Regions from separate parts of the Homo sapiens genome. Here region 2 is linked to region 1. Evidence: fine-mapped QTL for protein levels in blood plasma. A gene starts in region 1. The other region holds a variant in brackets. All regions are shown on one strand. Distances are from middle to middle.

Region 1 (5,362 bases):
CTCCAAGGCCCTTCCTTGGAGCAGGGACTCTGCCTGGAGCTCTGCTGAGAGGGCAGGGCAGCAAGGAGCTGGGAGTACTCTGGGCGCCAGGGCTCCCCAAGGTGACTGCTCTAGGATGCCGCCACACTCTCAGGTGAGTAAGTGTCCTCACAGCTCAGGTTCCAGGCCTGGTGGCCTCCCTTTCCACAAGGCCCACCTTCTCCCTCCCCACCGGCCACTTCTCCCGTAAGCGCCAACCCCCATAGCCCATCTATATACTGTGGCACCCTGGGTATGGTGTGACTGACTCCAGGCAAAACATTCCTGGCCAGCAATGGGCACAGTAGCAGGCCCAGAGCCCAGGAACACACACCCCTTGGTCAATCCCTGGGTGAGCAGCCGTGGTCCTGCCAGGAAGCCCAGAAAGAAACCAGTTCCCCAGGCCAAAAATTATTTCTAGAAGACATCCTGCCCGGTCAGCAACCACCCCCTCCTCTAAACCAACTGGCAGGGAGCAGAGCAGGGCAGGCCCCCTCAGTGCAGCACCCCAGCGGCTACCCCAACCCATTGAGGCCTGCAGTGGGGGATAGGGAGGGGCCCAGCCCCTGGCCTTTCTCCGGGTGTTTTTCATTCCCCAATCTCCGCTCCTTCCCTCTCCCTCCCTCCTGAGGTCCTTCCTTCTGATCTGTTTTTCAGTTACATAACAAGCCTTAAGATGGCACTGTTTAAATCTGTCCGGCACATTTTGCGGTCTGAGCAGGGTCACGTGGCCTTGCTCCGCACCGGGCACCCCCCCCCCTCCCCTTTTACAACCTTGTTTGATTTCTGCGACTTCAAGACAGAGCCTCCAGCGCTCATCCAGGCGCCCTGGGTGATAGACTGGCTGGCCTGAGTTGGTGACTGAGAAACCTCAGGGATTTGAAAGATGCCAGGACTTGGGTCACTCAGAAAAGAAAACCTCAGGGTAGGGGTTCAGGACAGAAGTGGGGAGGAGCTGGAGATCCTGAGAGGACACCGGGGGCATGGCAGCCGGGAAGAAACCTGCTTAACAGCCTCAGCGGCCCGGGGAACGAGAGCGCCCAGCCCCAGCCTGCACCCAGCTGTACGCTGAGGCTGGGGACCAGGGAGAGACAGGCTTTCTTAAGCAGGGAGGGTTTGAGCCAGCGACAGCCACTGTGCAAAGTTACTGAGGATTAAACAAATCAGACTTGAAAAATCCAGCGAGTGTGTGAGTGTGTCTGGATGGGGGAGGGGGCACTATGCAATCCCCTTTCCCAGAGACAGCCCCAGCCCAAGGCACCCAGCCCTGATAGAAACACCGACTAGAAGCCCAGAACCTGGGAAGGGGTGCGGGGAATGAGAAAGCGGTGCAGGGGTTGGGGGTAGCGGAGCGGCTTGAGGCTTGCACAGTGCAGAGCTGGGCTGTTAGGGATCGGGACCGAGGCAGGGTCGGGCAAGCAGGTGCAGGCAGGCAGCACGGCTCCCCCTGGCCCCAGTACCTTTCTCGAGCTCGCTGATCCGCTGGTGCAGGGAGGTCAGGGCGGTCTCGATCTTGACCCTCTCCTCGGTGTCGTTCCTGGGGCCCCCCTTGCCCTCCTCCAGGGTGTTCACCCGGGACAGCACCTGCCTCTCCAGCTCATCGATCTTGCTCTGCAGCAGATCCTTGAGGCTGTTGGTCTGGCTGGAGGAATTGAGGCGGCTGTACTGCTGCGGGGTGCAAGGGCGGGGGAAACCACACCGTTAGGCGAGGCGCGGGGACCGTGCTGGAAGGCCCGCGGCGCGGTCCCCTCTGGGCGACTGCGGGGGCGGCCTGGCAGGGAGCTGGGGCGAGTGGCCGCCGCGGGGCCTCGCAGGCGCGGGGAGGCACCGGCCGGGCACCCGCGCGGCTGAGGCGAGGGCGGGGGATGCCTGGCCGGGTAGGGAACGGGGTGGGGGAGGGCAGAGGGGCGAGCGAGCCGGAGGGGGAACCGGAGCCGAGGGCGCGCGCGGACCTCGAGGTTCTCCAGGCGGGTTTTGAGCGATTGCAAAGTTTGCCCGAGTTGGCTGAGCGTCTCGGCGGCCGGTGTCCGGGACAGGTCGCCCATGGTGTTCTTGCCCGAGCCGGGCTGCTTGCGGCCGCCGCCCGCCCGGGCCTCGCCGGCTCCGGGGTCCAGCGTGCTCTGGCTCTCGCAGCGGCCCAGCTTGGCGGTCAGCTCGCGGATGGTCTCCTTCTGGCTCAGGATGGTCTCCTTCTGCTGCAGCACCGTCTCGCGGAGCTGCAGCACGCTGCTCCGGAGCTCCTCGGCGCCGCCGGCGGCCACGGACGCGGCGCACATGTCGGCGTCCACGGGCACCGAGGTGCAGATGAAGCGCGTCGGCCCGAAATCCTGGGCCCCGGCGCCCAGGAGGCAGAGGGCGAGCAGCGCACAGGTGCGCGCGGCGCGGCCGGCCGGCATGGCTGCGGGCACCGGGCGCTCCGGGCCCGGCTCGGCTCGGCTGGGGCTCGGCTCCGGCTGGGACCCGGCTCGGGCTGTGGCTCCGCGAGCGGCCCGCGCTCTGGGCGCCGCGCTCTTCGGCCGCGCGGTCCACACCGCCGCGCTATCAGGCCCCCACTGCCGCCTGCGCTGCGGAGCCCGCGCCTTTTATGCCGCCGCGGGAGGGGCCTCGAGCCGCCGACGTCAGCGGGGGAGGAATCCCGCTTTAATTGTCCGCGGCCCGGGCCCGCGGCGCGGCGGGGGTCTCACGAGCGCGCCACCGGGGCTGCCTCCGCTCGCGTCCCCCCCGCCCTTCTGGGAGCTGCCGCGGCCCCCTCCTCCCCCGCCCCCGCCTGGGCCGGCGCTGCTGCCCCGAAGGCTCCGAGAGCTCAGGGGGAAGGAAGTCGGGCTCCGGCCCCGGACTCGAGGATGGACCACCTGCGTGGTGTCCCCGAACCTCCGACGGGGCTCCAGGCGGGCGGGAAACCACCGCGTCCGGGAGATAGAATTCGGTTCGGCCCTCCTGGCTGCACTGAACACCCTTGGGCCGGGGTCGTTTGGAGCCGGGCTGGGTGCCCAAGGACCCAGGTCGTCAACACCCGAGTGCCCGGTGGTCAACGGCTCGGAGTGGGGCCTCGCGGCGCCACTAAGTCCAGAGCGGGGGTCACCGGGCCGCCCCGCGTTTCTTAGATGTCCGTGTGCTATTGAGAAGCCGCCGGGCAGCCTGGGTACAGGGACTTCCCACGGGTCGGGGCCCCCGGCGCCTCCCCTCCCCCAGCTCCCGGGCTCTGTGGACCCGGCCCCGTCCCCGGGGGACTGTCAGTCCCCACCCCGTGCGGGCGGGGCGCTGGGGACTTCTCGGAGGCAGACCTAGCTGATCGAGCCTTTCCTGTCCGCGGCGCCGGCCCGATCGCGGGCAGGCGGCGTCGCCGGGGCTGGACGTTCGCAGCGGCGCTTCGGAAGGGGGCCCCGCGGGAGCAGCCGCCCGCGTCTCCAGCAGCTTCCCCTTGCCAGGCGCCGCGCGCGCCCGGTATCCCCGGGTGTCCACCTGTGCGTGGGGGGCTGTTTCCCGTCTGTCCAGCCGCGCCCACTTCTCAGGCCCAAAGGCCAGCAGGAAGGGTCCCGGAGGTGGCTGGGGGCGTCCACCTGAGAAGCTCCGCTCTCGCTCAGACACCCCACCCGGCACCCGCGCACTCGCGCCTTCATCTGGACCGCGGGGCTCGGCTCCCGAGATCGCGGTCCGGGTTCCGGCGCCGGGCTGGGGGCTCAGGACCAGGGCTGGCGCAGCCGCCCCGCCCCGCCCCGCCCCGGGGCTATCAGAGCGGTCAAAGCCTCGGAAATCCCTCCGTCCACGCTCCCGTGGTACAGAGAAGGAAACTGAGGCTCCGAGACTGCGGGGCCGGGCTACAGCCGTGGCCCCCCGACCCCTCCCCGCCGCCCCCGGCTTCTCTGGTCTCTGCGTTCTGCAGCCTTTCCCTGCGCGCAGCCGGGGGCTGGGGGTCCCCAGCCAGCAGGGACCCACGGGCAGTCCCGGGTGCCGGGATCGGGCGTCCGCCCCTCGGGCGGGAGCAGAGGCCGGCTCGATGGAGACCTTTTTGAGAAATGGCGGCCTCTACCCGCCCCCCAGCCCCCGAGCGCCCGCCGTCTGCGTTCAGCATCTCAGCTTTTAAGCCTCCCTGAGCCGGGGCTGCGTTCTCGTTGTCTCCTTCGGCCGCCGCTTCCTGGCGCCAGAGGGACCCCGCGGCCCGCACGGGCCTGTCCTCGGCTCCGCTCGGAGGGTGTGCGGGTTCCCGCTCCGCTGGCCCCGCTTGCCCACCACGGCGCGCCCAAACCCACGCGGCCCGCGGCCCCTTGCGTGCTCTGCCGACCCCGGGCCGCAGGAGGGGTTAGCCTCGCCGGTCCCCACGCGGGGTCTGCGCCGGCAGCGCCACGGGCTGGAACGCGCCTCGGGAGAAATTACCCGCGCGGGGTCGCGGCGTCTTCTGCCCCAACTCCCGTAGGGAGCCGCTAGGCGGGTGCCCTCCTGGCCCCAGCGCTTTGGCCTCGCCGCCCTCCCGCACGCGTCCAGTGGGGAGGCCGCGCCCGTCAGGCCTGGAGCCGGACCGTGCCCAGCCGAGAGCGCGCGGGCGCGGGAGAGGAGCCCTGCCCTGCCCAGGGCAGGCTGTTTAGACGGGGCGGGAACCCTTAGCCTGGCCCCGCGTCTCTATCCCCAGCAGCCGTGGAGCCTTCCTAGCCGCCCAAGGCCAGGGACCCTGCCTGGCTTTTCCTCCAGGGCAGCAGATCTCAGCGGCCTGGCACCTCGGCACAGAGGAGCGTGTCCCCCTTCCGCAGAGGAAGGGAGTGGACGGCGTCAGAAAGGGAGGGGAGCCTGGGGCGGTGTCTGGGGCTAGCGGGACCTCTGGGCACTGTGGGGCCCCAGGAGAGGAGACCCTCGGGTCCAGCCTGCAACTGTTGTGCAGGAGGCGCTGGGCGGGACACCTGCAGGCGCTGCACACACACGCGAGGGCCACCATGCCGCGTTTCTCCTTCACAAGACCCTGGGCAAGCGGAGGGTCGTATTTAGGATTCCCTCGGCCTCCCCAGTGTTCTGAAAGTATCTGAGAGGGAGGGAGCAGGAAAACGAAGGGCCGCCCTGCCCAAACTCATCGGGGTGTCTGGTTACTAGGTCGGAAGAGGGGGGATGGTGTTGTGAACAGCCAGTGATCCCGGCCCTGCCTGAGTCCCACACCCCAGATGCAGCTGGGGTGAGGGAGGCGATCCCGTAATATTCCCAGCCGCGTACATTTGTGGCTGCCTGTGACACGACCTCACTCATTGGGAAACCATGCACACTAGCACACTGTTATTTTATTTTTGAGACAGGGTCTTGCTCTGTTGCCTAGGCTGGAGTGCGGTGGCGCAATCACAGCTAACTGCAGCCTCGACCTCTT
Region 2 (5,362 bases), 81 kb after region 1:
CTACTAAAAAATACCAAAAATTAGCCGGGCGAGGTGACGGGCGCCTGTAGTCCCAGCTACTTGGGAGGCTGAGGCAGGAGAATGGCGTGAACCCGGGAGGCAGAGCTTGCAGTGAGCTGAGATTGCGCCACTGCACTCCAGCCTGGGTGACAGAGTGAGACTCTGTCTCAAAACAAAACAAAACAAAACAAAACAAACAACAACAACAACAAAAAAAATGAGAATCCAGTTGTCTTCTATGAAGCTGGATATTAAAGAGATTTGCAAAAATCTAAAAAAAGCCACCTGAGACAAGTGACAAGATAACTGACAATTTTTGAAAATATAGTTATTTGTAGAAATGTTATTTATTTGAATATATAATAAGTTTGATTTTTAAGTGAATTCATAAATATATCAATTATGTTTTTCTGTTTTAACCTTCAATACGGAAAATGTTGATAAATGAAACTCATAAAAAAGCTCTTTGAGGGTCTTCAGGAACCTTTAAGACCGTAAAGGGGCCCTGCTGCCAGATGTTTGAGAGTTATTAGTGTAGTTAGAAGAAAGTGGGCCTCATCCTTAGGAAGAAGGGCTTGAGGATATCAGGTGGCTGGTCAGAAATGTCAGGCAGGGCCTTGAAGTGACATTAGATAAGAAACATAAAGGCCCTAATCTGTTGCCCTCTTTCCATTCGCTCTGCCTAAAGAACTGTTGAGGTCTCTGGACTTGGAGCTGGGAGGATGTTTGTGAAGAGCCTGTGTGATTGTGAGGGCAGTGGCCTTACATGTGGCCACCTAGCCCTCCATCAGGTCCTTCTATTGCTCCAGATTTCTAGTGTGTGTCCGGAGGGAGATGCACCACCGCCCACCCAGTAGCTCTTGTGCTGGGAGTGGAGGAACACCCAGTCTGTCTGGAGGAATGTCCACTCTGTCTGGCAAGGAGGAGGTGGCCAGAGGTTCAGCCAAGGTGGACAGCTCACGGGAAGTGTCCTGTCTCTCCAGGGCGCTGCTGCCTAGACAGACTGACAGACACGGTAGCACCAAATTACAATACGCAAGTATAGGTATCAATCATAGTAATTACAGGTGAGAATGACATTATTACGGGGAGCATCTTGATTTAATATTAAATAAGTAAATCATTTGCATTGAACTGCATTTATGAAAGAAATCATCCACATTGACCAGCATTAAACTCCCAGCAGCCAGTGACTTCATGTAGTTGGTGATGGGGAGCTGTCCCAGGATTCCAGCTGGGGAGTTGTTGTGCATAAATTTGTGTTTTGAAATACCTTATTGGCTATGGATGGAGTGGGGTGATTGGAGAGGGGCGAGACTGGAGGTGGGGGCACCAAGTGGAGAGGAGTTGTGCTAATCCAGGTGAGAAGCCCTGGGGGCTGGGCGTGGTGGCTCACATTTGTAATTCCAGCACTTCGGGAGGCTGAGCTGGGAGGATCTAAAAAGTTTTTTGTTTTTTTTTTCTTAAATCTAGGTAGATACTTTGTGGTTCCCGAGACTCACATGAGACACTCACATCAGCGCTTGTGTGATTGTAAGGGCAGTGGCCTTACATGTGGCCACACAGCCACCGTCAGGGCCTCCTATTTCTCCAGAATTCTGTCTCACCTCTCCAATCCCTCTACTCCATCCACAGACAATAAGATCTTTCTAAACACAAATTTATACACAACAATTCCCTAGCTGGGCTCCTGGGCAGCTCCCCATCACCAACTACATGCTGAGCCCAGGAATTTGAGACCAACCTAAGCAACAAAGTGAGGCCCTGTCTCTACAAAAAGTAAAAAATAAGCCGGACATGGTGGTGCGCACCTGTGGTCCCAGCAAATTAGGAGGCTGAGGTGGGAGGATAGCTTGAGCCTGGGAGGTTGAGGCTGCAGTAGTAAGCTATGATTGTGCTGGTGCACTCCAGCCTGAGTAATAGAGTGACACCCTGCTTCAATAAAAACAGCAAGAAAAGAAACCTTGGGAGCCACAAAAGAGGCGGCTGCAGTAGGAATGGACGATAGAGCATGGATCCTACTGATTTGAAGAAGGTAGAAATAGAATGTGAAGTGGATGGGTTCCAGTGGGTGGAGTTTGTGGGTGTAGTGTGGACTGGCTGGCTGGTACAGTTCCGCTCTTTTTATTTGCTCTTGAAATGGATATACTTTTCATTAGTGAGTCTCATGTGAGTTTCAGGAGTCACAAAGAGACCATCTACCCAGATTAAAAAAAAAAAAAAACTTAAAACATGCTGGCCAGGCACGGTGGCTCACGCCTGTAATCCCAGCACTTTGGGAGGTCGAGGCGGGTGGGTCACCTGAGGTCAGGAGTTCGAGACCAGCCTGCCCAACATGGCGAAACCCCGTCTCTACTAAAAATAACGAAAAATGAGCCGGGCATGGTGGCGGGTGCCTGTAATCTCAGCTACTTGGGAGGCTGAGGCAGGAGAATCGCTTGAACTCAGGAGGTGGAGGTTGCAGTGAGCCAAGATCTTGCCACTGCACTTCAGCCTGGGTGACAGAGTGAAACTCTGTCTCATTGTTCCATTCTGAAGAGCTGTGGAAGACTCTTGAGATGGATAAGAACATGTCCTCATTATCACCCTGTGGAGTTCTAGAGCTAGAGTTTTAACAAGATAGCATGTGGATTACACATAGGAGGTGTCCTCCAGTTTCTGACTCTATCCTCCTCTTATTCAAATGACTTTAAAAAGGAATTTTGAAGGCTAAGGTGGGAGGATCACTTGAGGAAAGGAGTTCAAGACCAGCCTGGTCAACATGGTGAAACACCCATCTCTACCAAAAATTTAAAAATTAGGCGTGGTCGTGGATGCCTGTTATCCCAGCTACTTGGGAGGCTGAGGTATGAGAATCGCTTGAACCCGGGAGGTGGAGGTTTCAGTGAGCCAAGATCATGCCACTGCATTCCAGCCTGGGTGACAGAACGAGACTTTGTCTCAAAATAAATCAATAACTCAATAAATCAATAAATACAAAAATAAGGAGGTATTTTGGTCATCTACAATACTTGTTTCAGGAGAGCTGAAGTTTGATACCTTTTTCTAAGTCTAAATATATGGAAAATGGCCAGGCACAGTGGCTCACGCCTGTAATCCTAGCACTTTGGGAGGCTAAGGAGGGCAGATCACTTGAGGTCAGGAGTTTGAGACCAGCCTGGCCAACATGGTGAAACCCTGTTTTCTACTAAAAATCCAAAAATCAGCCGGGCATGGTGGCAGATGCCTGTAATCCCAGCTACTCGGGAGGCTGAGGCAGGAGAATCACTTGAACCCAGGAGGCAGAGGTTGCAGTGAGCCGAGAT[C/T]GTGCCACTGCACTCCAGCCTGGGCGACAGAGCGAGACTCCGTCTCAAAAAATAATAATAAATAAATACATAAATATATGGAAAATGCCATTCCAGTAAATATTTGGCATTGCAAATCAATGCTTTAACTGTGTTCTAGGCTGGGCACAGTGGCTGATGCCTGTCATCCCAGCACTTTGGGAGGCTGAGGCAGGTGGATCATTTGAGCTCAGGAGTTTGAGACCAGACTGGGCAATGTGGTGAAACTCTGTCTCTACAAAAAATACAAAAAATTAGCCGGGCATGGTGGCATGTGCCTGTGGTCCCAGCTACTCGGATGGCTGAGTCAAGGGGATGGTTTGAGTCAGGGAGGTCAAGGCTGCAGTGAGCTATGATGGTGTCACTGCCCTCCAGACTGGGTGACAGAGCTAGACCCTGTCTCAAAAAAACCCCTGAAACCCTTAAACTTGTCACATATTGGTGGGTGTGACTGCAGAGAATTGTCATGCCTTCAGAGGCCGAACAGGAAACAGCTGAAGAGGAGACAGTCGCCGAGAACAAGTTTGAATTTTACCCAGCTGTCGGTATATTTTTCAGGTGCGTTTATTGTTCTTGACTAGTACTTTTTGTATTTTAAAATGTTGATGTAATTTCAAACTGACGGAAAACCTGTAAGAATAGTATCATGAGCTTCCCTATAGCCTTTGCCCAGGTTTGCAGATTGTTTACATCTCGCCTTGTTTACTGTCACCCTCCATTTACATATTCAGACTGAGCTGGAGATGCTGTCCCCCTTCTACTCCTAAACACCGTGTCTGTCTCCTTAGAGGAGGCCATTTTCTTACGTAAGCACAGTGCAGTTGTGAGAGTCAGGACCTGTATCATGGATATGTGCTCCCGGCCCTCTGTAGTTCAGAAGGTCAGGTGTTGCTGCCTGCCCAGCAATGCCCTCATTATGCCCCGCCCGTCACCCAGGATCACACGTTGCATTTGGTGGTCGTGTCTGTGTAGCCTACCTTAATCTAAAGAAGTCTCTCAGTCTGTTTTAGACTTTCTTGACCTTGATTTTTTTAACTGTGAATTTACCATCTCAACCATCTTTCAGCACACAGTTTAGTGGCAGCAAGCACACCCACATGCTTGTGCAGCCACCACCAGCATCCACCACCAGCAGCCATCTCCAGCAGCTTTCCATCTTCCCAGACTGAAACTGTCTCCATTAAACACCAACTCCCCATTCCCCTTCCCCAGCCCTTGGTAACCGCTCTTCTGCTTTCTGTCTCTGAATGTTTTGGCCTTGCATGTAGTAGAATGTCCTGAATTTGAGCTGCCTAGTCTTTCCTCATATTCACACTGAGATGGGGCATTTTGGGTAATGATGCACCTTTGTCAGTGAATCCCATCAGGAGCACACGACGGTGCTTTGTCCCAGTACTGTCATGCTCATTTGATCCATTACCTTCAAGCCGTTTCTTGCTGAGTGGTCGCCTCCTGACTGATGCTGCCCTTTTGCCATACCTGTTTGGGAGCACGTCCTGACTTTCCAGCACAACCAGAGGGCCCAAGCTCACTCTGTGCCCTCCCTGCCCCAGTCCTGGAATTAGCCTTTTCTCCAAGGAGCCTGGTTCCTGTTAGTGGCGAATGGCATTGAGAAGCCACGAACGTGTGCATTTAGAGCTGGGCTGTGTGCTTTGCCCTTGGTGTGGCATGCGTCTCCCGTTGGTTGGCCCTCTGAGCAGGAGAGAGAGGATGGCGCTCTGTCTTGTTTACCTCTGTTTCTCTGTGTATGCTGGAACCATGGATGTGTAGAGAGAGCTCCAGTCCAGCTCCTCACCATGATATGTTCAGCCCTTCCCACTTTGCCTGCTACCACTCCCTACCCAGCCATGGGAAACCAGCTCCATTGTCCTCATTTAATCATGGGCTCAAAGCTGGAATGCACAGAAGGGAGCCTCGGAATGGCTAACGCTGGCCACTTGGGAAAGCAAATGCTGCAAGAGGTTGACTTCCTTGTTTTCTGAGGTAAACGTTACATATGGTGAAATGCACAGACCCCAGCTATCTGAACAATTGGCTCA

Which allele goes with the higher level. Alleles are on the strand shown, and positions count from the first base shown. The strength of an association depends on the size of the effect and on how common the allele is.
For the plasma level of the protein whose gene starts at base 2,575 in region 1, allele C in region 2 goes with a lower level than allele T (moderate association).

The links. PIP is the posterior inclusion probability: the model's chance that the variant is causal. The UK Biobank Pharma Proteomics Project read protein levels with antibody pairs (Olink). The fine-mapping took linkage between variants from a reference panel, not from the people measured, so its PIPs are less certain.
Region 2: its variant is fine-mapped to the plasma level of the NPTX1 protein (UK Biobank, PIP above 0.99).

The regions. Positions count from the first base shown.
Region 1 is chr17:80,474,033-80,479,394 of GRCh38, forward strand. It overlaps NPTX1 (neuronal pentraxin 1), which reads right to left and starts at 2,575. Exons shown (of 5, transcript NM_002522.4): 1 at 1,971-2,575; 2 at 1,479-1,686. The coding sequence starts at 2,414. RefSeq lists an enhancer at 1,029-1,562.
Region 2 is chr17:80,554,575-80,559,936 of GRCh38, forward strand. All of the region lies in intron 1 of RPTOR (regulatory associated protein of MTOR complex 1), which reads left to right. Among named protein-coding and RNA genes, the nearest start is that of RPTOR, 12 kb to the left of the region's middle. RefSeq lists a silencer at 2,502-2,702. The variant C/T (reference allele first, on the strand shown) is at 3,306.